Regions from separate parts of the Homo sapiens genome. Here region 2 is linked to region 1. Evidence: fine-mapped expression QTL. A gene starts in region 1. The other region holds a variant in brackets. All regions are shown on one strand. Distances are between the middles of the regions. Region 1 holds the start of TBC1D25 (TBC1 domain family member 25). Region 2 overlaps FTSJ1 (FtsJ RNA 2'-O-methyltransferase 1).

The links. PIP is the estimated chance that this variant, and not a neighbour inherited with it, causes the effect.
Region 2: its variant is fine-mapped to the expression of TBC1D25 in minor salivary gland (GTEx, PIP 0.93).

What each region holds. Positions count from the first base shown.
Region 1 is chrX:48,530,750-48,545,631 of GRCh38, forward strand. It overlaps TBC1D25 (TBC1 domain family member 25), which reads left to right and starts at 8,965. Exons shown (of 6, transcript NM_002536.4): 1 at 8,965-9,171; 2 at 10,584-10,693; 3 at 14,120-14,274. The coding sequence starts at 9,049. RefSeq lists a cis regulatory region at 863-1,232, enhancers at 8,619-9,119, 9,120-9,620 and a silencer at 8,906-9,125.
Region 2 is chrX:48,477,883-48,492,427 of GRCh38, forward strand. It overlaps FTSJ1 (FtsJ RNA 2'-O-methyltransferase 1), which reads left to right. Exons shown (of 13, transcript NM_012280.4): 2 at 79-286; 3 at 567-636; 4 at 735-825; 5 at 1,156-1,234; 6 at 3,269-3,321; 7 at 3,407-3,460; 8 at 3,544-3,646; 9 at 3,750-3,833; 10 at 4,521-4,624; 11 at 4,715-4,912; 12 at 5,104-5,145; 13 at 7,854-8,468. The coding sequence starts at 166. The coding sequence ends at 5,136. Among named protein-coding and RNA genes, the nearest start is that of FTSJ1, 9.0 kb to the left of the region's middle. RefSeq lists a silencer at 11,206-11,439. The variant G/A (reference allele first, on the strand shown) is at 3,017.

The DNA.
Region 1 (14,882 bases):
CTCAGCCTCCCAAAGTGTTGGGATTATAGGCATAATTCACTGTGCCATAAGCCACTCTGAAAGCTCTTAATCAAGTCTAGCATTAACTTTCAGTCCCAAGTCTTACCTAAATATCATCCAAATCAAGTGTAAATGAGACTGGAGGTATGATTCATCCTGATGCAAAAATTCTTCTCTAGCTGTGAACCCGTGAAACCAGATAAATCATCTGCTTCCAAAATTCAGTGGTAGGACAAGCATAAGCTAGATAGATATTTCCATTCCAAAAAGGAGAAATCACAAAGAAGAAAGGGATCACAGTCCAGGCGTGGTGACTCACGCATGTAATCCCAGCATTTTGGGAGGCTGAGATGGGAGGGTCACTTGAGCCCAGGTATTTGAGACCACCCTGGGCTACATGGTGAAACCCCGCCTCTACAAAAAACTAAAAAATTAGCCAGGTATGGTGGTACATGCCTATAGTCCCAGCTCCTCAGGAGGCTGAGGTGGGAGGATTGATTAAGCCCAGGAGGTCGAGGCTGCAGTGAGCCCTCTTCTCACCAGTGCACCCCAGACTGGGCGACAGAGCAAGACCCTGTCTCAGGAGAAAAAACAGGGATCACAGGTTCCGAATAAGTTTGAAACCAAATAGGGCAAATTCTATTAGATTTTTAAGGCTTGAGAATAATCCTGTTTGGCTCTATGTTCTGTCCTCTGGGCCCACCAGATTGGGGGCCCCACTTTCCTGGTTCACTGGAGAGGCGGTGTCTCTCCCTGAGCCCTGGGTGGCAGCCTGGCCCACTGAAACAGAGGAGGCCTCTTTGCCCTCTGGAACTGAGGAGGAGACAGCCCCACCTTTGGGATCATTCTCCCTTTTTCTTGAAGTATAATGCATGTTCACAGCCAGAAAGCTCTGTTGTCGTGTCCTGTTGAATCCCAGAAGTCCTACAGTCTTCTTTCATTTTGTCCCATCTCTGTCCTCTTTAGTCCCAGCTGGCCGTGTTTCTGCTGGTATTACCCATCTGTATTCCTGGCTTCTGCCAAGATGGCTGATTAGGTCAGTGAGTCACACCCATGATCTCTTTGTGGCATGATTGTTTAGCCACACCCTTTGTCTTCTCACCAGAACACATTCTCAGCTTTTGCAGTGTTGGATAGGCTGAGAACTTTTTTATCTTCACATTCGAGTTCCCTTCTGCCTGACAATTTCTTTTGCAATTTCTCTCTTTCCTCTTGCATTCTACTAGAAGCAGCAAGGAGAAAAAGGCCACATAATATGCTGCTTAGAAATCTCCTTAGCTAAATCTCCCAAGTTCGCCTCTCACAAGTTCTACCTTCCACAAAACACTAGAATACAATTAACCAAGTTCTTTGCCTTCCCTCCATTTTCCAATAACATATTCCTCATTTCCTTCTGAGGCCTCACCAGAAGCACTTTCAACATCCATATTTCTACCAGTAGCCTTCAAGATAATTGTCTTAGTCATTTGGACTGCTCTGACAAAATACTATAAACTGGGTAGCTTATAGGCAACTGAAATTTATTTCTCACAGTTCTGGGGTCTGGGAAGTCCAAAATCAAGGTGTTGGCAAATTCAGTGTCTAGTGAGGGCCTGCTTCCTCACAGATGGCTCCTTCCCTCTGTACCCTTATATGGTGGGAGGGTAGAACTCCGGTCCCTTCATCCCTTATAAGGGAATGACCTAATCACCTCCCAAAGGCCCCACCTCCTAATATCATTACACTGGGGATTAGGTTTCAACATAGGAATTGGAGGTTGGGGGGACACAAATATTAAGATCATAGCAGCAACATAGGCTTTTTCTAACATGCACCTCAAAACTCTTTCAGCCTCTACCCATTACCCAGTTCCAAAGCTACTTCCATGTTTTAGGTATTTATTATGGCAGCACCCCACTTCCCAGGACCAAAATCTGTGTCAGTTTTCTAAAACTGCCATAACAAAATGCCACATACCTGGTGGCTTAAACAACAGAAATTTATTTCCTCAGAGTTCTGGAGGCGGAAAATCCAAGTTCAAGGTGTCAACCAGTTTAGTGTCCCCTGAGGCTTGTAGATGGTCACCTTCTCGCCATGTCCTCACACAGTCTTCCCTCTGCCTGCGCATGTCGGTGTCCTAATCTCTTCTTATAGGGACACCAGCCAGAGTGGATTGGGACCCGCCTTCACCAACTTCATTTTAACTTAATCACCTCTTGAAAGGCCCTATTTTCAAATACAGTCACATTCTGAAGTATTGGGGGTTAGGGCTTCAGCATGAATTTTGGGGAGATACCATTCAGTCAGTAATACCGCTCTGTGCTCACCCCACTCACTCCCTAATACTTAGCCTCACAGATCTTCCATCATTCACCCCACAAACCCCCATCACATGCCCTGATTACTCAGCCCACAGATTCCCCTGCATTGCTGCCACATGGACCCCCCCAACACCCACCCTATAGACTTCCCATCACAAACCCTAAAGATCCCCCATCACTCACCCCACAGGCCCTATCGTGAACCCTACATATTCACGTCATTCACCTCACAGAGCCACATTACTCATCCAACAGACTCCACCCCTGGATCATTCAGCTTATTGGCCCCTAATCACTTCACTCACTCTACAGACTCACTCATCACTGACTCTACAGAGCTCTAATCACTCATCCCATTGACACCCCATTACTAACCCCACAGGTGCCTCCCACTCATCTCACAGGCCCTCCATCTCTCACACCACAAAGCCCTCTCACCTTATGAGCTAGCACATCAGCACCCCTACAGACCCCCAGTCATTCCCCCACCCCACAGATGCCCCCGTCACCCCATAGATCCTCATCAGCCATCTACAGATCCCCCATTCCTCAAAGTCCTCCTTCACTCCCCCTACAGACTTGCCCCACAGCCCCCATCATTAATCCCACAGAATCCTGCCACTCGCCACTCAATACCCCATTCACTCCACAGGCTCCTCATGACCCTACAGACCCCGTCACTACCCCACAGATCCCTATTACTCAGTTTATTATCCCCTGATCATACCTTCCAGAGAGGCCCCATCGCTAACCCCACAGACCCTAATCCTCCCCTGTGTTAGTCGGCTCTGGCTTCCGTAACAAAATGCCACAGACCAGGTGGCTTAAACAACAAACAGTTTCTCACACTTCGGGAGGTTGGACAGTCCAAGTGCAAGGTGCCATCAGGGTTGGTGTCTGGTGGGGTTTCTCTCCTTGGCTTGCAGATGGCTACCTTCTTGCTGTGTCCTCACGTGGCCCTTTCTCTGTGCACTCATGCCCAGTGTCCCTCTTCTTATAAGGATACCAGTTCTACTGAATTAGGGCCCCACCCTTATAATCTCATTTAACCTTAATTACCTCCTTAAAGGCTCTATTTCAGATATAGTGACATTATGTTGAAATATTGGGGGCTGGTTCCCCTGATATTAGGGCTTCAACATATGAATTTGGGGAGGAGGACATCATTCAGTTCATGACACTCCCCATCACTCACCCCACAGATGCCACAGCTCTCACCTCACAGAGCCCCCAACACTCCTACCACATATATTCCATCACTCAGCCTCTTGGCTTCTGATAAGCCACCCCACAGATCCCCCATCACTCTTCCCACATACCCCATCAACTCCTAAGATACCCATCACTCTCCCTACCAACACACATTCATTCGTTTCACAGATTGCCCATTATTGACCCCACAGAAACCCCGTAACTCACCACACAGACCTCAACCCCATCACTCACCCCCACAGGCCCCTATCACCCCCAAAATCTTCACTCTGAAGATCCCATAACTCACCCCAGAAGCCCCTCATCAGTCACCCTAACAACCCCTATCACTGACACCACAGACCCACCACTCATCCTACAGATGCCCCTTTACTAACCCTATAAGCATCCCATAACTCACCTTGCAGAAGCCATCACTCAACCCACAGAGTCCATCTCTCATCCCACAGACCCCTTATCACTCACACCACCATCCCATCTCTCAACTCACGGTCCTCCACAATCCACCATATACACCCCATCACTCACCCACAGATGCCATCATTCACCCCTCAGACCCCCATGACTTACCTCATAGTGCACCTATCATGTACCCACAGACTCCCATCCACCCCAGGGATCCTCCGTCACTCTCCACAGACCTGCTATTATTCACCCAACAGACACCCCTCACTTACTCTACAGACCCCCATCACTCATCCTGCCGTCTATCATTACCTTATAGACCCTCCATCATAAAACAACTGGGTACTTGAGAAGTTTTGAAGAGATGGAAAAGAATAAATAATAAAACCACAGATACCTGTAGACTGGCTTCAAGTGACCTCTGTAAGGCCGGGCACAGTGGCTCACTCCTGTAATCCCAACACTTTGGGAGGCTGAGGCGGGCAGATCACCTGAGGGTTGGGAGTTCAAGACCAGCCTGGCCAACATGGTGAAACCCCTTCTGCACTAAAAATACAAAAAAATTAGCCAGGTGTGGTGCCAGGCACCTGTAATCCCAGCTACTTGGGAGGCTGGGGCAGGAGAATCACTTGAACCCGGGAGGCAGAGGTTGCAGTGAGCTGAGACTGCACCATTGCACTCAAGCCTGGGCAACAAGAACAAAACTCCGTCTCAAAAAAAGAAATATCAAGTGACCTGTGGACTTCAGTTCAAATCCTGGCTCTGCTTAGGCCTACAGTATATAGCTTTGGAGAAATGCCTCACTGTTAAGGTCAAAGCCCTGCATGATCTCACTCTATTCTCACCTCGTCTGCTGTCACTCACCTATCATTCACTCTACTTAAAGGCATGCTGACTTCCTTGCTTTTCCTCAAACACAACAGGCATAGCCCCAAGTTCCATCCATTGCACTGCCTACTCTCTGTGACACTACCCCCTTTGACCTTGAGCTTGTTTCTCCCTGGCTTTCAGTACTCTAATCTGTAGAATGCTTAGAGTAATAACACCTACCTGCTATGGTTCGAATGTTTCTCCCCTCCAAAACTCATGTTGAAACTAAATCTCTTTTTTAACAGAATTAAGGAGGTGGGAAATCTGACTACGGTATTTGAGAGATGGGACCTTGAGCGGTAATTAGGATTAGATTAGATGAGGTCATAAGGGTGGGGCATTAGTGGTTTTCTAAGAGGAGAAACAGATCTGAGCTAGCAAGGTCAGCACCCTTACCATGTGATGCCCTGCTCTGCCTCGCCACTCCACAGAGAGGCCCCACCAGCAGAAGGCCCTCACCAGATGTGACTCCTTGACCATGGACTTCCCAGCCTCCAGAACTGTAAGAAATAAATTTCTTTTCTTTCTTTTTTTTTTTTGGTGGGGGGGGGGTGTTGTTGTTGTTGTTGTTTTTAGAGACAGGGTCTCACTCTGTCACCCAGACTAGAGTGTAGTGGCATGATCACAGCTCACTGCAGCCTCAAACTTCTGAGCATAAGCAATCCTCCTGCCTCAGCCTCCTAAGTAGCTAGTACTACAGGCATACTGCCATGCTCAGCTAATTTTTAAATTTTTTTGTAGAGACAGGGTCTTGCTATGTTGCTGAGGCTGTTTTGAACTGGCCTCAAAGCAATCCTCCCACCTCAGCCTCTCAAATTTCTTTATAAATTACCCAGTCTTGGGTATTTGATTATAGCAACAGAAAAATGGACTAAGATACTACCTCATAGGGTTTTTATGCAGATTATAAGAATTAATTTATGTAGACTGCCTAGCATATACTTTATATTTGTTGAATGGAAGAATGAATAAACAAAAAAGAAAGTTCTCCCCAGGACTATGGCAAGGACCTCCTTTTTGATCTCCTTGCTTCCAGTATCTTTCCATCCAAAGCTCTCCCCAGGACCAAGACAGAGGCATCTGACCACATCATACCCCTGTCTAAACCTTTGCCCCAGTGTCCTTAGGATCGATTCCAAACTCCAGGCTAATGGTTTGCACATCCCACCCTATGATAAATGAAAAGCAGGCTCTTACTCCTTGTTTCCATCAGAAAATCCAGCAGTGCTATAAGTGATTTTGACTCTAAACACATGGGGCAAGAGAGACATGCCAATAATCCTTTTCTGGCTTTCAGAGAAAATCCCCATTATTTATACCTTCTAAAAATAGAGATATCTATTTAATGTTAATACCAAGGCAACATGTTGTCTTAAAAGACACCAAAATAGAATTGCAGACTTACCTAAAAAGTTAACCTTGAGGGTTGCGTCCATATGACACGGACACAATAGTTGGAGTGCTAGTATCTTACAAGACTCCTTTGTTGGAAATAACATTTGTTTTTGTTTTTTGTTTACTTTTTTTTTTTGAGACGGAGTCTCGCTCTGTTGCCCAGGTTGGAGTGCAGGCTGGAGTGCAGTGGCGGCTCACTGCAAGCTCCGCCTCCCAGGTTCACACCATTCTCCTGCCTCAGCCTCCCGAGTAGCTGGGACTACAGGCGCCCGCCACCACGCCTGGCTAATTATTTTGTATTTTTGGTAGAGACGGGGTTTCACCGTGTTAGCCAGGATGGTCTCCATCTCCTGACCTCGTAATCCGCCCGCCTCGGCCTCCTAAAGTGCTGGGATTACAGGCGTGAGCCACTGTGCCCGGCCAGAAATAACATTTGTAAGTGCAGCCTGTATTTTGTCCAAACCGCACGGATGTTGTGCAATTAAGTGGGAAGACTGCCTTTTTGCATTTTGCCACATATAAAGTTTCTCAGAAGAGTCTAAGATATATTCAATAATTCAGCCAATATCTAGTAGACATACACCATTTAAGAACAGGACCAACCTTAACATGTTATGAAGATTAGGTAAGACAAAAGCAAAGTTTTGTGGGCTTTTTTTTTTTTTTAATCAGGTTCTCACTCTGTCACCCAGGCTGGAGTGTAGTGGCGTGATCACAACTCCATTGCAGCCTGGACCTCCCAGGCTCAAGTAATCCTCCCACCTCAGCCTCCCGAATAGCTAGGAGCACAGGTGCGCACCATCAGACCCAGCTAATTTTTTTTTTTTAATTTTGTAGGGACAGGGTCTTCCTATGTTGCCCAGGCTGGTCTCAAACTCCCCGGCTCAAGCGATCTTCCCACTTCGGCCTCCCAAAGTGCTGGGATTACAAGTGTGAGCCACTGTGCCTGACTCAGTTTATTTTTTAAAATTTTTCTTCATTTATTCTTGGCTTCTTCCATTCATTGTTTTGATCACTAACTATGTGCTCAGCACATTGCTGAGCCTTTTGCATGCTCTGCTGGGCATTCCCCATTTGCTCTTCCGGATCCATTATCCACCCTGCTCTGGGACCCCAAAAAGCTGATCTTTTATAGATGGTATCATTTGGGCCCCATTGATTGGTTCGTAGTTGAGCCTGGCCACTTCTCTTTCAACTGGTCCCTGGCAGTCAGTACCAACATTTTAGTCAGGTTTCAAAGAAATCTCTAGACCAAGCTGGACAGAGGGCTTTTCCAGTGATTCAGTGATTCCCCAAGATCTGAGAATGTGAAACTTGGAAAAGGGACACAAAGACCGGGGATCCTTTGAGCTGGTTCAATAATGGCAGAGCTTTAGAGATATGCTGCTGAGCTCCCTGGGTCTGTCTCGCTTTCTGCCTTCTGAAGGCTTGATTGTTAACTTCTTCCTGGGTTTCAATTAGAAGCATTAGTGTCCTTCCTGGAGTTGAATTACCTGGAAATTTGCCTCCTAGATGTGTAAACTTGGGAAAGTATGATCTCGTCAAGTTTCAGACAAAGGCAAACTAAAAAGCTAGAACTCCAGAGAGCATAATAGTGTTTTTTGGGGGCAAATTATTTAATGAAGTATAACATTCATACAGGAAGTACAAAAATCATCAGTGTACAAAATCTCCATGAATTTTCACAATGTGTAAACCATTTTCCTGTTTTATCTGACCTTACTAAGTCAGGGTATAAATTATTAATTTTTTTTGAAACAGGGCCTTGCTCTGTGGTGCAGGTTAGGGCAGTGGTGTGATCACCGCTCACTGCAGCCTTGACTTCCTGGGCTCAGCCATCCTGCCGCTTCAGCCTCCCGAGTAGCTGGGACTGCAGGTGTGCGCCACCACGTCCAGCTAATTGTTTAATTTTTTGTTAGAGACGGGGTCTCGCTGTGTTGCCCAGGCTGGTCTAGAACTCCTGGGCTCAAGCGATCAGCCCGCCTCGGCCTCCCAAAGTGCTGAGATTATAAGGCGTGAGCCACTGCACCCTGCTGAGTATATTTTTAAAAACACTTTACCCGAGGGCTGTGGCTCACACCTGTAATCCCAACACTTTGAGAGGCCGAGACGGGTGGATCACTTGAGGTCAGGAGTTCGAGACTAGCCTGGGCAACACAGCTAAACCCTGTTTATACAAGATATACAAAAATTGGCTGGGCGTGGTAGCACGCGCCTGTAGTCCCAGCTCTTGGGAGGCTGAGGCAGGAGGATCGCTTGATCATAGCTCACTTTGAGGCTACAGTGAGCTGTGATCGCGCCATTGCACTCCAACCTGGATGACAGAGCGAGACCCTGCCTAAAAAAATAAAAAAAAAAAGGATTTTTTTCTGTTCAGTGGATTCATTTGAAGCGAGGGCCACTGGTATTTGAAATAGATGACATCATCTGCCAGCAGAGGCGTGAGGCAACTTGAGGCGGGGTGTGGGCCTGACGTCATCACGCAGCCTCTTCCTTTCCCCGCCCCCTTCTCTTGGCGAACGAGGCGTCAGTTTAACACCTCCGTGAATCCGGAAGTATGCTGTCAAAACAACCAAACCACGGGGCTGGGGGAGGCGGGGCCTCAGTAGGCGTCTGCACGCTAGCTGAAATAGAGCAAAATGCCCGACTTTTGGGGGCGGGGCTCCTGGCAACAGCACTCTAGGCGCAGGCGCAGAGGCGACCTCCAGGCAGGGCCAGGTGGGAGGGACGGTGGGGGGTAGGGTCGCGCGGCGCCCTCTGCGCCTGCGCCCCGGCACGAGGTGGGGCGGCGGGCGTCAGTACAGTAGAGTGTGCGCCGGGGTGGGGGGCAACGGTCAGCCGTCACCCTGAGACGGGCGGCGGCGGGATGGCAACAGCCTCCGGGGCCTCGGACTTGTCTGGCTCCGGAGCGCCCCCGCCCGGTGTGGGAGCTCAGGCGGCGGCGGCCGCTGAGGAGGAGGAGCGAGAGGTGGTGCGGGTCCGAGTCAAGGTGAGGCTGGCGGTGAGTCGGCCCAGCCGCCGAGGCATCCCAGGGGAGGGGGAGGCGGTGGCTGTCATAGGATGGAGGGCGGGACCTGAGATTTCGGACATAACCTGAGCGGCGAAGCTTGAGGGCCAAGTGATGATGGCGAGGGGTAGGGAGGGCCTGAGAGCCTGAGAGCGTTAGCGACGTACCTTGGGGCGTGGGACTGAAAATAGAGGGACGAGGCGGGGGTCTATGGGATGAATGGGTGGAGCTTATAGACAAAGGGGAGGGGCTATGGGGCTGGAGGAGGGGCCGCAGTAGTTGAGGGTGGGGCTCTGAGGAATGAGAAGGTGCTGGCTCTGGAGTCAGTCAACCCATGTGTTGAGAGTGCACTTATGTGCAAGTTCCCACTTTGATGAGCTGACAGGCTCGTGGGTGGAGACAACTAAAGAAATGAGATGCTTCGGACACTAAAATAATGAAAAAGGTTATGAAATAGGGAGTCACGTTAGCCAAGGTTGTACAGGGAAATCCCCAGAGGAGGTATTGAAGGAGCAGAGACCCGAATAAAAGGAGTCAGCCATGTGCATATTAGAAGGGAAGAGTATTCTAGGCAGAAGGAATAGCAAGGGCAAAGACTAGAGGATGGGAATGAGCCTGGCATGTTCCCGTAGGTTCCTGATTGCTGGAGTGGAGAGAATGAGGGGAAGAGTGGTAGGAGGTGAATCAGAGCGCTAAGACAGAGACAGATCGCCAAGGGCCTTTGGTGTGTATGCTGAGGAAGAACGCTGTTGCCATAGTTCCAGTAAACAATGATGGTGGCTCCGACCAACCAGTGGCACTGGCAGTGATAAGAGGGTCCACACATCACTTCAGTGTAATAGAGCTCTAAGGTAGAAGTTTGACATTCAGAAAAAAGATGATGCCTGAGCTGGGCGTGAACCACGTGAAGAAAGTGGGAGGGATGTTCCAGACAGGGGATCAGCACAATCAATGGCCTGGAGTCAGGATGGTTTCAAGGTAACTTCTAACAGTTTGGTACTACTAGAGTGTAAAGTTCAAAAAACCTGGTGAGAGGCTGGCTGGGGCCCCATAGGCCCGCTTGCTGGGACTCTAGGGTTGCCATTGAAGAGATTGAAGCAGGGGAGTGTTGTAGGTAGATGTGTTAGATTGGTTACAGCACCATAGAGGACTGATTTAACAGGAGCCAGACTGGACACGGTGATTCTGGCAACCATAGTTGAAGGGATATAGAAGAAGGATTGGGGGCCTGAACTCTTGCAGTAGCCTCCTCCTCACTGGACCCTGTGGTCCAGAACACCTGCCTTGATCTGGCCCCTGGCACCTCTCTGACTTTGCCTTCTACCACTCTGCACCTCACTCTTCAGCATGGTGATGGGGCCCCTGGTGGCCTACCCCATGTCTTCTCTCCCCAGAAATGTGAGAGCTTCTTGCCGCCAGAGTTCCGCTCTTTTGCTGTAGATCCCCAGATCACCTCGCTCGACGTGTTGCAGCACATCCTCATCCGAGCCTTTGATTTGAGTGGGTGAGTGGGAAGATGCTGGGGACTGGCCAGTGGGCCACCGACCTCTACAGTGGCTATCTGGCCTTTGTTTGGTAGGGTTTTTGTTTATTTTACTACTACAAATAATCCCACAGTGAACAGCCACGTATGCATGTCTTGGAGCACAGTAGTCTACTTTTGTCTGTGGTTTTGCTTTCTGCAGTTTCAGTTACCCATGGTCAACCTCAGTCTGCAAATATTACATACAATAAGATATTTTGAGAGAGAGAGAGAGACCACATTCATATTACTTTTATTACAGTTTACAGACAGTCCCCAACTTACAATAACTGGACTTAGGATTTTTCAACTTTACAATGGTGCAAAAGCGATACGCATTTGGTAGAAACTGTACTGCAAGTGCCCAGCGATTCTGCTTTTCACTTTCAGTACAGTGTTCAATAAATTACATGAAATATTCAACACTGTTGTAAAACAGACTCTGTGTTAGATGATTTTCCCAACTGTAGGCTAATGTGAGCGTTCTGAGCACGTTTAAGGTAGGCTAGGCTAACCTGTGATGTTTGGTAGGATAAATGTGTTAAATGCATTTTCCTTTTTATTTCTTTTTTTTTTTTTTTTTGAGATGGAGTCTAACTGTCACCCAGGCTGCAGTGCAGTGACATCTCCCAGGTTCAAGTGATTCTCCTGTCACAGCCTCCCAAGTAGCTGGGACTACAGGCATGCACCACTATGCCCGGATAATTTTTTTTTTTTTTTTTTTTGAGACGGAGTTTTGCTCTTGTCCCCCGGGCTGCAGTGCAGTGGCGCAGTCTCAGCTCACTGCAACCTCCGCTTCCCGGGTTCAAGTGATTCTCCTGCCTCAGCCTCCCAAGTAGCTGGGATTACAGGCACGCACCACCACGCCTGCTAATTTTTGTATTTTTATTAGAGACAAGGTTTCACCATGTTGGTCAGGCTAGTCTCGAACACCTGACCTCAAGTTACCTGTCCACCTCGGCCTCCCAAAGTGCTAGGATTACAGGTGTAAGCCCCCGCACCCAGTCCCAGATAGTTTTTTGATCTTCTCTTTTTTTTTTTTTTGGAGACAGAGTCTCACTCTGTCACTTAGGTTGGAGTGCAGTGGTCCGATGTTGGCTCATTGCAGCCTTTGCCTCCCGGGTTCAAGTGATTCTCATGCCTCAGCCTCCAGAGTAGCTGGGATTACAGGTGTGCACCACCACACTCAGCTAATTTTCATGAGGTTGGTCAGGCTGGTCTCAAACTCCTGATCTCAAGTGATCCGCCCACCTCGGCCTCCCAAAGTGTTAGGATTACAGGCACGTGAGCCTCCGCACCCGGCCAATTTTTTGTATCTTTAGTAGAGACAGGGTTTCGCCATGTTGCCCAGGGCAGTCTCAAACTCCTGAGCTCAAGCAATCCGCCCGCCTCAGCCTCTCAAAGTGCTGGGATTACAGGTGAGCCACTGCGCCCAGCCAAATGCATTGTCAACTTACAGTATTTCCAACTTACGATGAGTTTATTGGTACATAACCCTGTCATAAGTCAAGAAGCATCTGTATTGTCATAATTGTTCTATTATTGTTAATCTCTTACTGTGCCTAATTTATCAATTAAACCTTATCATAGGTATGTATGTATATGAAAAAAAACATAGTATATATAGGGCTTGGTACTATCTGCAGTTTCAGGCATCCACTCGGGGGGGTCTTGGAATGTATCCCCTGTAGATAAAGAGGGACTACTGTATTTGGAAACATCTAGTCATAGGATAAATTCCTAGCAGTGGTATTGCCAGGTAAAAGGGTATTTGCTTTAAAAAAAATTTTTTTTTTGAGACAGTCTCATTCTGTCGTCCAGGCTGGAGTGCAGTGGTGTGATCTCGTCTCATTGCAACCTCCACCTCCTGAGTTCAAGCAATTCTCCTGCCTCGGCCTCCTGAGTAGCTGGTACTACAGGCGTGCGCCACCATGCCCGGCTAATTTTTGTATTTTTAGTAGAGATGGGGTTTCACCGTGTTGGCCAGGATCGTCTCGATCTCCTGACCTCGTGATCCACCCGCCTCAGCCTCCCAAAGTGCTGGGATTACAGGCATGAGCCACCGCACCTGGCCTGCTTTTTGAACTATTAATGGGTGTTTCCAAAATGCTCTCCAGACAGGTTTTATCAATTTATGATCTCAGCCGGGCGCTGTGGCTCATGCCTGTAATCCCAGCACTTTGGGAGGCTGAGGCAGGTGGATCACGAGGTCAGGAGATCAAGACCATCCTGGCTAACACGGTGAAACTCCGTCTCTACTAAAAATACAAAAAATTCTCCAGGCGTGGTGGTGGGCGCCTGTAGTCCCAGCTACTTGGGAGGCTGAGGCAGGAGAATGGCATGGGCCCGGGAGGCGGAGCTTGCAGCGAGCCGAGATCGCACCATTGCACTCCAGACTGGGCGACAGAGTGAGACTCCGTCTCAAAAAAAAAAAAAAACGAATTTATGATCTCATCAGCAGCACATAAATGCCTGTTTCCCTCACACCCTCGCAAACATTGGTTACTGTAAAACTGCAAAATTTGCCAATCTGATAGCTGAAAAGTGGTGTCTCTTGGGGGCAGATGTGATAGTCATTTTGTTGTGATTTTGGAGGAATACATACACATGGTAAGAAATTCAAACAGTACACAATTGTTGGGTATTTAGGATGTTTCCATGGTTATGATGAGCATCACGCAACAAACTTCTTTACATAGTTGCACAAGTATAGCTGAAAAATTCTTAGTTGTTATTAGACTTTCTTACATAAACATTTTTGTTGTGAAAAATAACAAACACAGATTGCTTTTTTTTTATGTAGTAAGAAGGCTGCTTTCTTCCCACTTCTGTCCCACATCTACCCCAGAGGGGACCAACTTTTTTTTTTTTTTTTGAGATGGAGTCTTGCTCTGTCACCCAGGTTGGAGTGCAATGCCACAATCTTGGCTCACTGCAACCTCCACCTCCCAGGTTCAAGCGATTCTCCTGCCTCAGCCTCCTGAGTAGCTGGGATTACAGGCACCTGCCACCACACCCAGCTAATTTTTTTTGTATTTTTAGTACAGAAGGGGTTTCACCATGTTGACCAGGCTAGTCTCAAACTCCTGACCTCAGGTGATCCACCCACCTCGGCCTCCCAAAGTGCGGAGATTATAGGCGTGAGCCACTGCACCCGGCCAACATTTTACCAGTTTCCAATGTGACCTCCAGATACAAGCAGGTGTGTACCTGCTTGTATGTGTTTGTGTAACAAAGTGGGTATAAATGACCTGATCTCAGGCTGCCCATAATCCTTGGCACAGTACCTTGCACATAGTAGGAAGTTGTTTTCAACGCCTTCTATATTACCCTCCTTGTTTTGGAAACTGTCCCTGAGGCCTCCAGGGCACCAGGGGCCCTGAGAGCTCCCTCGTATCCCCTGTCCAGGAAGAAGAACTTTGGCATCAGCTACCTGGGCCGGGACCGGCTAGGACAGGAAGTTTACCTCTCACTTCTATCTGACTGGGACCTCAGCACAGCCTTTGCCACTGCCTCCAAACCTTACCTGCAATTGCGTGTAGATATTCGGCCCTCGGAGGACAGTGAGTACTCAGTGCCCCCAGGAGCACTGCTCTGGAACCCCTTTACCCCATAGGGTGATGCTACCCCTCACAGTACACTCCCTCATGGTGGGATGGGTAGCAAGGTATCCTAGCTATAGATCCTGGCTCAGCCACTAGGCCACAATTTCTTCACTTGTAAAGAGATAATTGTATCTTAGAACCATTGTGAGGCCTTGTATCTTAGAACCATTGTGAGGGGAAATTCATATAAAATGCCTGGAACAGTGCATGACTGCATAATGAAGGCTCAGAAAGTGTTATCTCTAATAATGATAATTATATTGTATTATACTATTATAACATATAACCGAGTAATGTATGTAATAATTAGATATAATGCAGATTTATAATATAGTATAACGGTATAGCTTTAGCATTATGTATTTCAGTTATAATACCTAAATATAACAATGCGTATTATAATAATGCTAGTTGTGTTTATTCATTCAGTCATTCTGCACCCATATTCATTTGTTTGTATTCTTGCTCACTCATTCATTTGTTCCCTTGACCTCTCAGCCACTTTTTCTCTTCTCATCTTTGTTCTTCCACTCTTGCCTATTCTGGTCCCTGCGAGCACACAGATA
Region 2 (14,545 bases), 53 kb before region 1:
TCAGCCCATCTTCTGTGTGAGCTGTCATGTGGGTCAGATGAGCCCAGTTTAGTTTGTGTGGTTCTCTCCGCCCTACAGAGGTAGGTGGTAGCCCATTCATCTGGTTACTGATACTGGCCGGCATCAGTGGACTGTCGGCAGGTCCTTGAGCAACTGGTGTGTGAAATGGGACGGACGTCAAAGGACAAGCGGGATGTCTACTACCGCCTGGCCAAGGAGAATGGCTGGCGTGCTCGCAGCGCCTTCAAACTGCTACAACTGGATAAGGAATTCCAACTCTTCCAAGGTCCCTGACTGGTGGGCAGGTCACTGGGCGGTGAGGTGGGCACAGGAGGTAAACAAGTAGGCTGGGTCTGCAGAGCTCCCTGTGGTAGGTGGGCTGACTCAGAGGGTCTCTGGGGCAGGGAGACAGGCAGGAAGATAGGCAGAATACCGGAGAGGAGTTGGGCACCTGGGCAATGGAGATATGTGGGTGCTCCCCAGGGGAGAGGGGTGAATTTTGCAAGGGTCTCCAGGTTGGAGAAGTGGGTGCAGCTGATCAGGATGCTTTCACTATGTATGCCCAGGCGTGACACGGGCAGTTGACCTGTGTGCAGCCCCAGGCAGCTGGAGCCAGGTGCTGAGCCAGAAGATCGGGTAAGTGTGGGGGTCCCAGATGGGAGACCCAGGAGGGCCGGCTGGGTGGGAGGGGCCCGGGAGCGAAACTAGGCTGATGTGGGCCATGTTGTCCACAGGGGCCAAGGGTCCGGCCACGTGGTGGCTGTGGACCTGCAGGCTATGGCTCCACTACCAGGTGTGGTACAGATCCAGGGGGACATCACCCAGGTAAGAGCATGGCTGAGGGTGTTGGGGTATATCCTGGGTGAAGGCCCTTACCTGGGGTCTATGCAGAGTGGAAGAGAAACAGAGAGGTGATAGAAACAGAGAGAGAAAGAGAGTGAGAGAGTAACCATGGAGAAACAGTCAGCAGGTCATCATTGCACAGACACAGCAGAAAATGATGATGCTGGGTCCCCAGAGGTGGAGCCCAGTCTTAGAGAGGCAAAGCCTGGGAATTTGGCTGACCCAGGGGCTGTGGGCCAGGACCATGGGCAGGCGGGATCTGAGGGCAGCAGTGGAGGGCCGTGGGGCCACTCATCCTCCCTCTCTCCATAGCTGTCCACTGCCAAGGAGATCATCCAGCACTTTAAGGGCTGCCCTGCGGACCTAGTGGTGTGTGACGGGGCTCCTGATGGTAAATAGCAACAGAAAGTGGGAGGCCAGGCGGGGCCCCCTGTGTGTGTCCTTCTCTGTATCTCCCACCTTGGTTGACTTATTCACCTCTTCAGTTACTCCCTGCCTCTCCCTTCCGCACTCAGCTTTCTCCCACATCTGGCAACTTCTCCCTACCTCTGCTGCCTGTTCTCTCTCTGCCTCTCTCTTCCTCCCACTTGCACCCCACCCTTTGAGTTTCATGTCTGTTGTCTACCTTTCCCTGCTCTCATCTCTCTGCAACTGTCCAATTCCGTTGCACTGTTCATTCATTTTCAGCCAGCCAGCCATTCAACACACATTTACTGAGCACCTATTGTGTTGGGAAAACATTCATGAATAAAATTCCATTAATCTTTAACCTCATGGAGCTGATGTTCTAGTGGGAGCAAATGGGAAAGAAAATAAATGATTCAGCTCTGTACCATTAAAAGGGGATGGGGCCAGGCATGGTGGCTTCCACCTGTAATCCCAGTGCTTTGGGAGGATGAGGTGAGAGGAACACTTGAGGCAGGAGTTTGAGACCAGCCTTGCAACATAGCAAGACCCTGTCTTAAAATATTAGCTGGCATGGTGATGCATGCCCATAGTCCCAGTTACTCAGGAGGCTGAGGTGGGAGGATCACTTGAGCCCAAGAGGTCGAGGTTACAGTACACTTTGATCGCACCACTGCACTCCAGCCTGGGCAACAGAGTGAGACCCTCTCTCTAAAAAAACGGGGTGAGGAGGCCGGGCACAGTGGCTCACGCCTGTAATCCCAGCACTTTGGGAGGCTGAGGTGGTCAGATCACCTGAGGTCAGGAGTTCGAGACCAGCCTGACCAATATGATGAAACCCCATCTCTACTAAAAATACAAAAATTAGCCAGGTGTGGTGGCATGTGCCTGTAATCCCAGCTACTTGGGAGGCTAAGACAGAAGAATCGCTTGAACCCGGGAGGCGGAGGTTGCAGTGAGCTGAGATCGCACCATTGCACTCCAGCCTGAGCAACAAGAGCGAAACTCCGTCTCAAAAAAAAAAGGTGGGGTGGGGGATGGGTACCATAGGGAAATCATTGAGCAGGAGGAAAGCAGGAGTACCTGTTGGAATTTTAAATCAAGTGGATGGGGAAGGCCTCACTGACTTAACAGCAGAGACTAAAGGAGGTGGGGGAGTAAGCTATGGATATGTCTGGAGGAAGAGCAATCCAGGAAAAATTGCAGCCCGTGCAAAGGTCCTGAGGCAGGAGGGTGCTTGCTATGTATGAGTAATGACAAGCAGATCACTGTGGTTGGAACAGAGTGAGGGGGGGAGAGTGGTAAAAGGTAACATCAGAGAGGTAACAGGGGACAGATCCTATAGGGCCTCGTGGGCCATGGTGAGGCTGTTGGCATTTTCACCGAGATGAGAGCTTGGAGAAAACCATGAGAGGGTTGTGAGGAGAAGAGGACTGTGCTGGGCTTGGGCTACTATGAGCTGTGTGAGGGCCAAGGGCAGAAGCAGGGGCTCCGGGGTGGAGTAGTCCAGGCAAGTGATAATGGGTGAGGGCAGTGGTGGAGAGGAGAAGATCAAGTCAGATCTTTTGAAAGTAGATGTGTTAATGGCTTCGATGTGGGTGTGAGGAGAGGATGCGGGGGGAGCATCAGAGGTGACTAAGGTTTTGGATTTGAACAATTAGAAAGCTCAGATGAGATGGGGAGGATGGTGGGAGGAGCAGGTTTGGGGAGGTAGGTCAGGAGTTTGGTTGTGGATGTATTGGAGATGTAGAATCTGATTTGTGAATCT[G/A]GAGTTCAGAGGAACAGTCTGGGCTGGAGGTGGAAATGATAATGATGCTTGTGTGTGAGGTTGTTTTAGAATTGAAATGAGTTCCTAAGGGTTAGGAGCTCAGAATATGCATCCAGTTGGCAGACAGTAATTTGCATCTGGAACCTTAGCAGTAAGACAGCCTGGAAAATGTATTTAGTGTCTGATCTGTGTGGTACAAGAAGATGCACAGAGCCAGATGGGACCCCCCTAACGCTGTTCCTCTTGCCACAGTAACCGGTCTCCATGATGTTGATGAGTATATGCAGGCCCAGCTCCTCCTAGCTGTGAGTAACCCTGGCCACCCCTGACCCACTTTGGCCCCCTCCTGGCTGTCTCCACCTCAGCCTCAGCCGTCTGTCCTGCCCACAGGCTCTGAACATTGCTACACATGTCCTGAAGCCAGGGGGCTGCTTTGTGGCCAAGGTAAGTCTCAAGGAACTTGGTGGAGTAGAGGGAGGTCGCTGAGGGCCACCCTCACCCGCTGTCTTTGCCTTCTCACCCTGCAGATATTCCGAGGCCGGGATGTGACGCTCCTCTACAGCCAGCTGCAGGTCTTCTTCTCCAGCGTGCTGTGTGCCAAGCCCAGGAGCAGCCGGAACTCTAGCATCGGTCAGTGGGGTGGAGGGGCCAGGCAGGCAGAGGGGGATCTCTGGGACGCCGACTGCACGAGGAGGAAGCGGCAGTCATGCCTCACTCCACCTTCCCCTGGCAGAGGCCTTCGCTGTCTGTCAGGGCTATGACCCTCCCGAGGGCTTCATCCCGGACCTGAGCAAACCCCTGCTGGACCATTCTTACGGTGAGAGCTGGAGCATGGGCCACCCTGGGGGACTCTGCCACACCTTATGCAATCTAGGTCCCATGAGGGCCCACAGTCTCACCCCCTGGGGGAGGCTCTGTCCCCTCATGGGAATTTTTTTCCCAAGGGGATCCTTAGCCCCATTCTCTGATGGAAATCCCACCCCTTTATGGGTATTTTGTCCCGGGAGGAGCTTCAGCCCAGGCAGTCCTCTAGTGGTAACTCTTGGGCCTGGTGAAAATTCCATCCCAGGAGGATCCTGAGCCCTGCCCCAGTGGAGACTCCACCTGCCTAAGGACATTCTCTCCTAGGAAGATCTCAGTCATGTCCCAGGTGGAAACCTCCTCGGTGTGAAACTTTTGCCCCTTAAGCCTCTAGCAGGAAGAGACAGAGCCTGCCCCTGGGATGACATTTGAGTGAGGGAGACGTCATCCAGGCAGCATATAATCCAATATCAGGTGGACATAAATGCAGTGAAAAATAGCAGGGCACCGATGTTTTAGAAGGGGTGATTATGGAGGGCCTCCCCGAGGAGGTGATCTGAACCAAATGAAGGATTTCTGGTGGGGTGGGAAGAGAGTAGCTGGTGGATATGTGGGGAGGGTTTGGCAGCCATACCGCCGCCTGTGTCATGACTGGCCCCAGGCATCCTGACCTTGTCCTCAGTTGTCTCCCCCTGTTCCTAAGACCCAGATTTCAACCAGCTGGATGGTCCCACCCGCATCATTGTGCCTTTTGTGACCTGTGGGGACCTGAGCTCCTATGATTCGGACCGCAGTTACCCACTGGACGTGAGTGCCCAACCAACAGTAGGTGGGTGGGAGGGAGGCTGTCCTAGGTTACCAGGTCCTCACCATCTCCCTACCCCTCTGTCCCTGCAGCTAGAGGGCGGCTCAGAGTACAAGTACACTCCACCCACACAGCCCCCCATCTCGCCACCATACCAGGAGGCCTGCACGTTGAAGAGGAAGGGGCAGCTGGCCAAGGAGATCCGCCCCCAGGACTGCCCCATCAGCAGAGTGGACACGTTTCCCCAGCCCCTGGCCGCCCCTCAGTGCCACACCCTGCTGGCCCCTGAGGTCTGGAAATGTGACTCTCAGCCTGCCTTGACCCCTTCCCCGTGTGCCTTTTTCTGACCCAAATCTCATGGTTTCTGGGGCCAAAATTCCCTTTCCTGCCTCCCAATAGCTATAAAAAATTGGTAAAGCCAAGCATAATGAATGGAAAAGTTTCGCCAAATATGTGAGTCACTTTTCTTTTTCTTGGGTAGATGGAAGACAATGAAATGAGTTGTTCACCTTAACCCATTACGGTAAGTTTGCCTTGTTATCTAAGAGTTTGAGTAAGGGCAACCTTTATGAAAAACCTCAGTAAAATTTCACCTTTGAAATTTTTATGTCAACTGATAAGATTTTAATCAACAAACCCTTTTCTAAACATCTGTTGTTGTATGCCAGGAACTGCTTTAAGCATTTTACATTTGAGGCATTCAGTAAACATTTATTGAGCACATACTGTATGTCAGGTGTTGTTCTAGGTTTGGAGATAGAGCAGGGAGCAAAACAGAAATATCTTGGCTCTCACAGTACTTCCAGTTTGGAAAAGAGGCAACAATCAAAACAGTCTGTAAGTGCAAGAGTTTACATACACATATATACTATATAGCTTGCATTTCTCAATTTACATATCTTGCAATATATATAATATATAAGAGTAATATGGGATATAAAAAATAGAAAAAAGTAAAGCAGGGTGAAGAGAATCAGGAATTCTAGGCATGGCAGTTTTCATCTTTTGGTGTTTTTGTTTTGAGACAAGGTCTCACTCTGTCGCCCAGGCTGGAGTTCAGTGGTGTGATTTCCCGGGCTCAAAAAATCCTCCCACCTCAGCCTCTCAAGTAGCTGGGACTACAGGCATGTACCACCATGCCTAGCAAATTTTTGTATTTTTAGGGGAGATGGAGTTTTGCCATGTTGCCCAGGCTGGTCTCGATCTACTGGGCTCGAGCGATCTGCCATCCTCGGCCTCCCAAAGTACCAGGATTACAGGCATGAGCCACTGCGCCCAGCCAGTTTGCACTTTTTAAAAGGGTTGTCATAGAAGGCCTCAGACATTCCTCAGAGGTAATGTTTGAGCAAAGACCTGAAGGCACTGCCGGAGGGAAGCCATGTGTTTATCTGAGGGAAGAGCATTCTGGGTAAAGGAAATAGGCATGTCCCAAAGGTGGAACTGCACGTGGTATGGGAGGAAAGTTTATCCATAGCCAAATGTTCTAAAACCACGATGTTAGAGGATGGCCCTTTCTGACAATGGCATAGCAGGTTATTCAGACTAAGTCAGCCATCACAAAAAGCCACCTTTTTTTTTTTCTTGAGACAGAGTCTTACTCTGTTACCCAGGCTGGAGTGCAGTGGCATGATCTCAGCTCACGGCAACCTCCATCTACCAAGTTCAAGCGATTCTCCTGCCTCAGCCTCCCAAATAGCTGGGATTACAGTGCCCGCCACTATGCATGGCTAATTTTTGTATTTTTAGTAGAGATGGGGTTTTGCCATGTTGACCAGACTGGTCTCAAACTCGTGACCTCAGGTGATCCACCTGCCTCGGCCTCCCAAAGTGTTGGGATTACAGGTGTGAGCCACCACACCTGGCCTTTTTTGTTTTGTTTTTTGTTTTGTTTTGAGAACAGAGTCTCGCTCTGTCGCCCAGGCTGGGTGGAGTGCAGTGGCACTATCTCAGCTCACTCCAACCTCCGCCTCCCGGGTTCAAGAGATTCTCCTGCCTCAGCCTCCTGAGTAGCTGGGATTACAGACGTGTGCTCCCACCTCACCCGGCTAATTTTTGTATTTTTAGTAGAGACGGGGTTTCACCATGTTGGCCAGGCTGGTCTCAAACTCCTGACCTCACAAAATCTGCCTGCCTCAGGCCTCCCAAAGTGCTGGGATTACAGGCCTGAGCCACCACACCTGGCCACAAGAAGCCACCTTAAGAAAAAATTGAAACAGCAAATCATTGTGTGAAAGAGATTTACAGTTTTTAATATTTAAAGGGTCCTGTAAATCAATAAGGAAAAACATGAGAGTGGCCAGTAAGCACATGAAAAGCTGCTCATCAGGAAAATACAAGTGAAAACTCAAAATATCAACAACACTAAGTATTTGAAAGGATATGCAGCAATTGAAAGCCTCGTACATGCTACTGGGAAGGTAAAATGGTGCAGCCACTGTGGAAACTTAGGCATTACCTACTAAAGCTGCATGTGTGCCAGTTCCACTCCTAAGAAATGAGTCCTAGAGGCCGGGTGCCGTGGCTCAACGCCTGTAATCCCAGCACTTTGGGAGGCCGAGGTGGGTGGATCACCTGAGGTCAGGAGTTCAAGACCAGCCTGACCAACATGGCAAAACCCCATCTCTACTAAAAATACAAAAATTAACCGGGCATGGTGGCGGGCACCTGTAATCCCAGCTACTCAGGAGGCTGAGGCAGGAGAATCACTTGAACCTGGGAGGTGGAGGTTGCAGTGAGCTGAGATCGTGCCACTGCACTCCAGCCTGGGTGACAGAGTCAGACTCCATCTCAAAAAAAAGGAAATGAGTCCTAGAGTGTTGCTAGCAGCACTATCTATAGTATATGCCCATTAAATCGTGGTACATTCACCGTGGAGAACTGTACAACAATGACAGTGAACATCCTGCAATTACACCAAATAACACCTTGTAGTTATTCATTAAACTGAACATATATAGGTTTTATGCATTTTCTATATGTCATGGTTCACCATAAAAGGAGGAAATGTCACAAAAATGTTAGCAGCAGAGTTAGCTAGGTGTGGTGGCACATTCCTGCCTGTAATCCCAGCTACTTGGGAGGCTGAGGTGGGAGGATCACTTGAGCTTGGGAGGTTAAGGTTGTCGTGAGCTATGATGGAGCTCCACTGCACTCCAGCCTGGGTGACAGAGCAAGACCCTGTCTCTAAAAAAACAAAACAAAACAAAAAAACTTTCTTTGACTTTTGGTTAGCTGGCAAACTGATACAACTCAGAAACTGCTCAATGTCAGGAAAACCGGAACTTGTTGATGAACTTGTTTTCAAAATATCATCTCATCAACGAGGCCTGGACAAACAAGCCCTGAGGAGGGATCTGCAACAACCCTGAAGACAACAAGGAAAGAAACCATGAAAGTCTGTCTGTACTGCAGTGGGAATTCTTGAGTGAGGTCTTACCTCTTCTTTAAACCTCTTCAGGAGTGTCCTGATTATGTCCAGAATTTTCCCTAAAGGCAGGGATTCTTAACCTGGATAGAAGCCAGGGGTAACCATGAACTTGATGGAAGAAAATGTTACATCTTTATTTTCAGCAATGAAACTGAAATTTAGCCTTACTCCCAAGTTATAAATGCTGGCAACAAATCACAGTAGTAAAAGCAGTACCTGGGATTTTCCCACCAATACAAACCAGTTACAGCAACTGTAATGTAACATAAAAAGGGCATCTTGAAGTATTGTTCATATTTGTCACCTCTTGGAATGATAGCAGATCCTGTAAGTTGATGTATTAATTAAAAAGCCCATATATTACTGCATCTCAATTTTGTTTCAATTTAATATATAGTAATAATTGTAATTCAATGTAATTGGCTTCCATTGTAATTGTGTGTGTGTGTATGTGTATGTATATACTTTTAAAAATATTCTGTGAAGGGGTTCACAGATTTAACCAGATGCCAAAGGGTTCTGCAGAACAAATTTATTTATTTATTTTGAGACAGAATTTCGCTCTGTCACCCAGGCTGGAGTGCAGTGGTGTGATCTTGGCTCACTGCAACCTCTGCCTCCTGGGTTCAAGCGATTCTCCTGCCTCAGCCTCCCGAGTAACTGGGATTACAGGCACCCGCCACCACACCCGGCTAATTTTCGTATTTTTAGTAGAGACGGGGTTTCACCATTTTGTCCAGGCTGGTCTCGAACTCCTGACCTCAGGTGATCCACCCACCTCGGCCTCCCAAAGTGCTGGGATTACATGCGTGAACCACCGCACCCAGACTTCAGAACAAATTTTTTAGGTTAAAAACCTGTCTTAAAGAAACGTCAGGGCCAGGCGTGGTGGCTCACGCCTGTAATCCCAGCACTTTGGGAGGCTGAGGCAAGCGGATCACTTGAGGTCAGGAGTTTGAGACCAGTCTGGCCAACATAGTGAAACCCGTCTCTACCAAAAATACAAAAATTAGCTGGGTGCGGTGGCACATGCCTGTAATCCCAGCTACTCAGGAGACTGAGGCAGGAGAATCACCTGAACCCGGGAGATGAAGGTTACAGTGAGCCGAGGTCGCGCCACTGCACTCCAGCCTGGACGACAGAGTGAGACTCTGTCTCAAAAAAAAAAAGCAATGTCAGAAAGTCTACCTGGACTGCAGTCCTAAATTTCTATAACTTAATGAACAGGAGCTGACAGAAACTCCCCAGCTACACGAACAGAACTGTTTTCTACAGCTTAATCCTGTGTCCTTAGAAATTCACGTACTCTGTGATCCAAGGACTATCCACGCCACAGTCCAGTGACCTCAGGAGTATCCACATACCAGTCTGCGACCCCAGCTGTTTCCACACCTGACTGTGACTCACCCCAGTTACCATGTGTGACCCCAGGAGTATGCACACTCAAGTCTGGGAAAACCATTGTCCAATCTCCAGTCAGAAATGGTGTTTAAATTCTGGAGCGTGTGTTCATAGGCATGTCTACACTCCGGTCTCTGACCACGAAAATAACCACACCCCAGTCTGTGTGACTCCAGGAATGTCCAGACCCCAGTTTGTGTCAGTCTAGGAGTGTCCACACCATGGTGACTTAACCCAGGAGTCTTCTCACCGAAGTCAGTGTGACCACAGGAATGCCCACACCCCAATCTGTGAATATGCACAGCCCAAGAATGTATGGCGGAAGTGTCCACACAAAAGGCCGTGTGACCACAGGCGTAGCCACACCCATTACAGTGCAAATTCAGCAGCGTTCACACGACAGCCTGTGAGACCTCAGGAGTGTCCTCACGCCAGGTTCTGTGAGTCCAGCAGTGGCAATGGCTTGGAGTTTCCATAGCCATCTTAGTGGTGCCATAAATGTGTAGCTCAAACGGTGACCACAGAGGAGTCCACAGCTCAGTCTGTGGTGTCCTGGGAGTGGTTTTGCCCCAGTCCAGCCACCTCAGGAGTGTCCCCACCCAAGTTTTTATGACACAAGTAATGTCCAGTTCCCAGCATATGTGACCCTGGTGTTGTCCAAACCCCATAGTCTCTGGCTATTAGTGTGTCTATACCCATCTTGACGGCCTCAGGCAGGTGCACTCCCCCATCTGTACGACCAGAAGACTATCGACTCCCCTGTCATTGTGACCACAGGAGTGTAAAACTCCAGTGCCAGTGACTACTGGTGGGTCCACATTCCAGTCTGGGTGACCCAGGGGAGGGCACAGCCCTGTCTGTGTGACCATAGGAGTCTTCACACCCCAGTGTCTGTAAACACACAGGAGTCAATTCCCCAGTCAGTGTGACCAGAGGAATGTTCACACCAAATTGTGTGACCACAGGAGTGTCCACACCTATCTGCATGTCCTGAGAGGTGTCTATACTCCAGTGGGTATGACACCAACAGTGTCCACAACAAAGTCTGTGTGACTCCAGGAGTGTCCCTCCCCCCAGTCAGTGGGAGTCTAGAAGGATCTACACCAAGTCTTGGGAGCCCAAGGGTGTCCCTTCGCCAATCTTTGTCACTCAGGGGACATTCACCCCCCAGTCACACAGACGAAGCATATCCACAGCTGGGTCTGTGTGACCCCAGCAGAGTCTACTTCACAAGTCGTGTAACCACAGGAGTGTCCCCAGACGAACCTATGGGAATCCAGGAGTGTCCACATCACAGTCACTTGACCACAGTGGTGCTGACTTCCCAGTTTATGTATCCTTAGCCATGTCCTTTTTCCAGACTGTGTGACCCTAAGTGTCCACACCCCAAACTCGGTGATCCAAGTCACTCCAGTCTGCGTGACTCCAGTGTTGCCCACACACCAATCTGTATGACCCTAAGAGAACACATCCCGGTCTGTGATGCTTCAGCAGTGGCCACACCCTACTCTGTGTGACCCCAGAAGTGGCTACACCACAATCAGCATGACCTCAGGATTTCTTACTCCAAAATCTAGTAACATCATGAGTGTCTACACCCTCACCTGTGTGATTCCAAGAGGATCCACACCCCAGGCTGTGTGACCCTGGGAAGGTCCCTATAGCAGTCAGTGTAAACCTGGGAGTGCACTCTTCCCTGTCAGTGTGAGCTGGGAGGGTGTATCTAGAGGAAGAGTGATCCAGGGAAAGGCGAAGGGCCGGATGTGGTGGCTCACACCTGTAATCCCAACACTTTGGGAGGCCAAGGTGGGTGGATCACCTGAGGTCAGGGGTTTGAGACCAGCCTGGGCAACATGGTGAAACCCCGTCTCTACTAAAAATACAAAAATTAGCCAGGCGTGGTGGCACATACCTGTAATCCCAGCTACTTGGGAGGCTGAGGCAGGAGAATCACTTGAACCTGGGAGGCGGAGGTTGCAGTGAGCTGAGGTTGTGCCACTGCACTCCAGCCTGGGTGATAGGCCAAGACTCTGTCTCAAAAAAAAGAAAGAAAGGCAAGGGCCCTGAGGCAATGGCCCTGAGGTGCCTGGCACATTTGAAGAACAGGCCAGTGGGGCAGGAGCAGAGTGAACAAGGAGCCAGTGGCGGGCGGTGAGGTCAAGGAGGGCCCGGAGGGCCTCGTGGGCCACGGAGAGGACTTTGGCTTTTTCTCTGAGAGAGATGAGAGCCATGGCAGGGCTCCGAGCAGAGGAGGGCCCCGGGCTGACTTGGGTTGCAACAGGATCCCTCTGGCTGCTGTGGTGGCGGCTACTCAACTGTTATTGTTTGTCAAAACTCAGAGAACTGTATGCCAAAAGGGTGAACTTTATCGTATGTAAATTATAACTCTTTACATTTAAGTTATAACTTTTGGAAAATGTGCAGTACTGGCCAGGCATGGTGGCTCATGCCTGTAATCCCAGCACTTTGGGAGGCTGAGGTGGGAGGATCGTTTTAGCCTGGGAGATTGAGGCGGCAGTGAGCTGAGATCATGCTGCTGCCCTCCAGCCTGGACAACAGAGCAAGACCCTGTTTTGAAGAAAAAACAAAAAACAAAACAAAACAAAAAAAGTGCAGTACTTTGCAAGCAATAAAGATTTCTATTTCTGCAAGAGAGGCTGTGCTCATGCCTGTCCTTACCCCTCTCCTTCCTGCACAAACACATCTCAGGAATGCACCTGAGGAAAAGGAGGGAGCCGGGGCCTCCCTCAACTGCTCAAGGTAGTGCTCCCTTTGTTGTCTGCTGTGAACTGAATTGTGAATTCAGCAAATTCCTTTGTTGAAGCTTTAATCCTCAATGTGACTGTATTTGGAGATGGGGGTAATTAAGATTAAATGAGGCCATAAGGGCAGGGTCCTAATCTGATAGAACCGGTGTCCTCATTAGAGAGGGAAGAGATGCCTGAGCTCCCTCCCTCTCTCCCTGTGGGCGCACAAAGGAAAAGCCACATGAGGACAGAGAAAGAAGGTGGCTGTCTACGAGCCAGAAAGAGAAGCCTCACCAGAAACCAACCCTACCGGCACCTTGATCTTGAACTTCCAGCCTCCAGAACTGTGAGAAAATAAACGTCTGTGGTTTAAGCCACCCAGTCTGAGGTATTTTGTTAAGGCAGTCTGAGCAGCTAATTGGCTCTCAGTTTCAAGGCTGATTTCAAGAGACTCGTGTTGGCCAGGTATGAGGGGAGCCAGTGCTCAAGTGAAGGAAGGAAAATTCAGCACATCCTCCTCGTCTAGCTGAAGGGGGCTCTGGAGCAGCAGGAGGGGCCCAGGGCAAGCCTGGAATGAAATCCGTGGCACTCCTGCAGGTTCTGGGGGCGGTGTCCATGGAATATCCTCTGCCACATAACAAAATGACTAATAATTGCTTGGGGAGCTTTCAGAACTGCCCCAAGGCTTCCTCTAACACTCCACCCACACCTGGTTCATGCCAGGTTGCTCGATGCCTTGGTTCGGGAGAATAGGTGTGGTGTCATCTCAGGCTTGGTGGCAGCCCAAGGGAAGGGGCAAGTGTTCTGAGTCTCTCTAGATGACACAGGAGCTGAGGAAAGCTGGAGTGAATTATGAGTCACAGCCCGTACCTCACAAGAAAGTTCTGCCCGATGCCAGAGCTGGGAGCCATCACCAGTTATGCAGGGTTGGTGGAGAAGAGCCTCGGGATAATTGGTATGCATGCCCGCACATAGGTGTGTGCGTACCAGTACGTGTGAAGTTATGCAGGAGTGCGTGGTGTGCTTATGCCCATGTGTGTGCACATTAGTCCTTTTGTGCATGCATGCATACATGGCACATGTGTGTGCATTCATGCTTTGCTGTTTTGAATGCAGGTATGGTTATAAGTGCATATGGGCAACAGAAGTTCAAGTGTGAATTCTCATGGAGATGCTAGGGTGTAGCAGGCACATGGGGACCTGTTCCCTGACAGGGGTGTTTGTGAAAAGCAACTGTGCATATGTGTGAGGGTGTACTTATATATGAGATTCTATGTGCAAAGCCCTATGTCCGTGGGTGCTAGCCTGAGTGTTTGTGTCTGTGTATATACATGTGTATGCCAGCGTGCACATGCATGGCTGTGTGTGAGTGCGTAAGTGAAGGGGAGCACATTGGCCCAAGCTGGTAAGTCTAGTATCTATGCATGTATACCCCTGGGCACCGCCCCCCCCGCCCCGTGCAAGTGTGAGTGAACAGGTACACAAGGGCCTGGGCGTAGATGTCTGTGCACATGTACGTGGGCATGCTGTATGCATGGCTGCAGGGATTTCCCACGTGTGTGTGTGCACAGATGCACAAGTGCCCAGGAACCTAGATTGTGGTGTCTGTACACATGTACCTCTGGGCACCATGCATGTGTGTGTGCAAAAGTGCAAGTGTGCCTATGGGCTCAGGTCTGGCTGTCTGTGTACATATACCCCCTGGATGCCCATAAAGGTGTGAGTGTGTACTGCAGGTGCATATTTGTCCGTGGGCCTCAGTCTGGGTATTTGTGAACATATAACCTGTGTGAACGTGCATGGGTGTGTGGATGTGATCAGGTGTGCCCATGGACCCAGGCCTCGGTGTCTGTGTACAGGTACCTCAGGGTGCCCGTGTGTGTGTGTGTGTGTGTGTGTGTGTGCGCGTGTGTGTGTGCATGTGCATGTGTGTATGTGTGCATGTGTAACTCTGGAGGTCCATGCATGTGTGTGCGCATGGCTTCAAGTGTGTCCAAGGACCTGGGTCTGGGCATGTGTGTACATGTATCCCTAGGAACCCATGCATGAGTATGCTCACGTGTTCAGCGGTGCCAATGGCCTTGGATCTTGGTGTCTGTGTATGTGTACCCTTGGGGGACCACAGATGGCATTCATGCATGCATATGTAGCACCATGGAGGGATCTGTGTGCAGATTTACCTCTACCTACACCTGGCTGGGGATCATAAAGAAAATCAAGGGATGCGCTACCTCCATGAATCCAGGTTTCAGCAGAGCTAAGGGAGTGAAATTTGGGGCCATTTTACTTGTCTCAAACCTTGTTATCTGAGAGAAAGCTAGAGCTTCCTTCTTTCAGCCCCCAGAGAC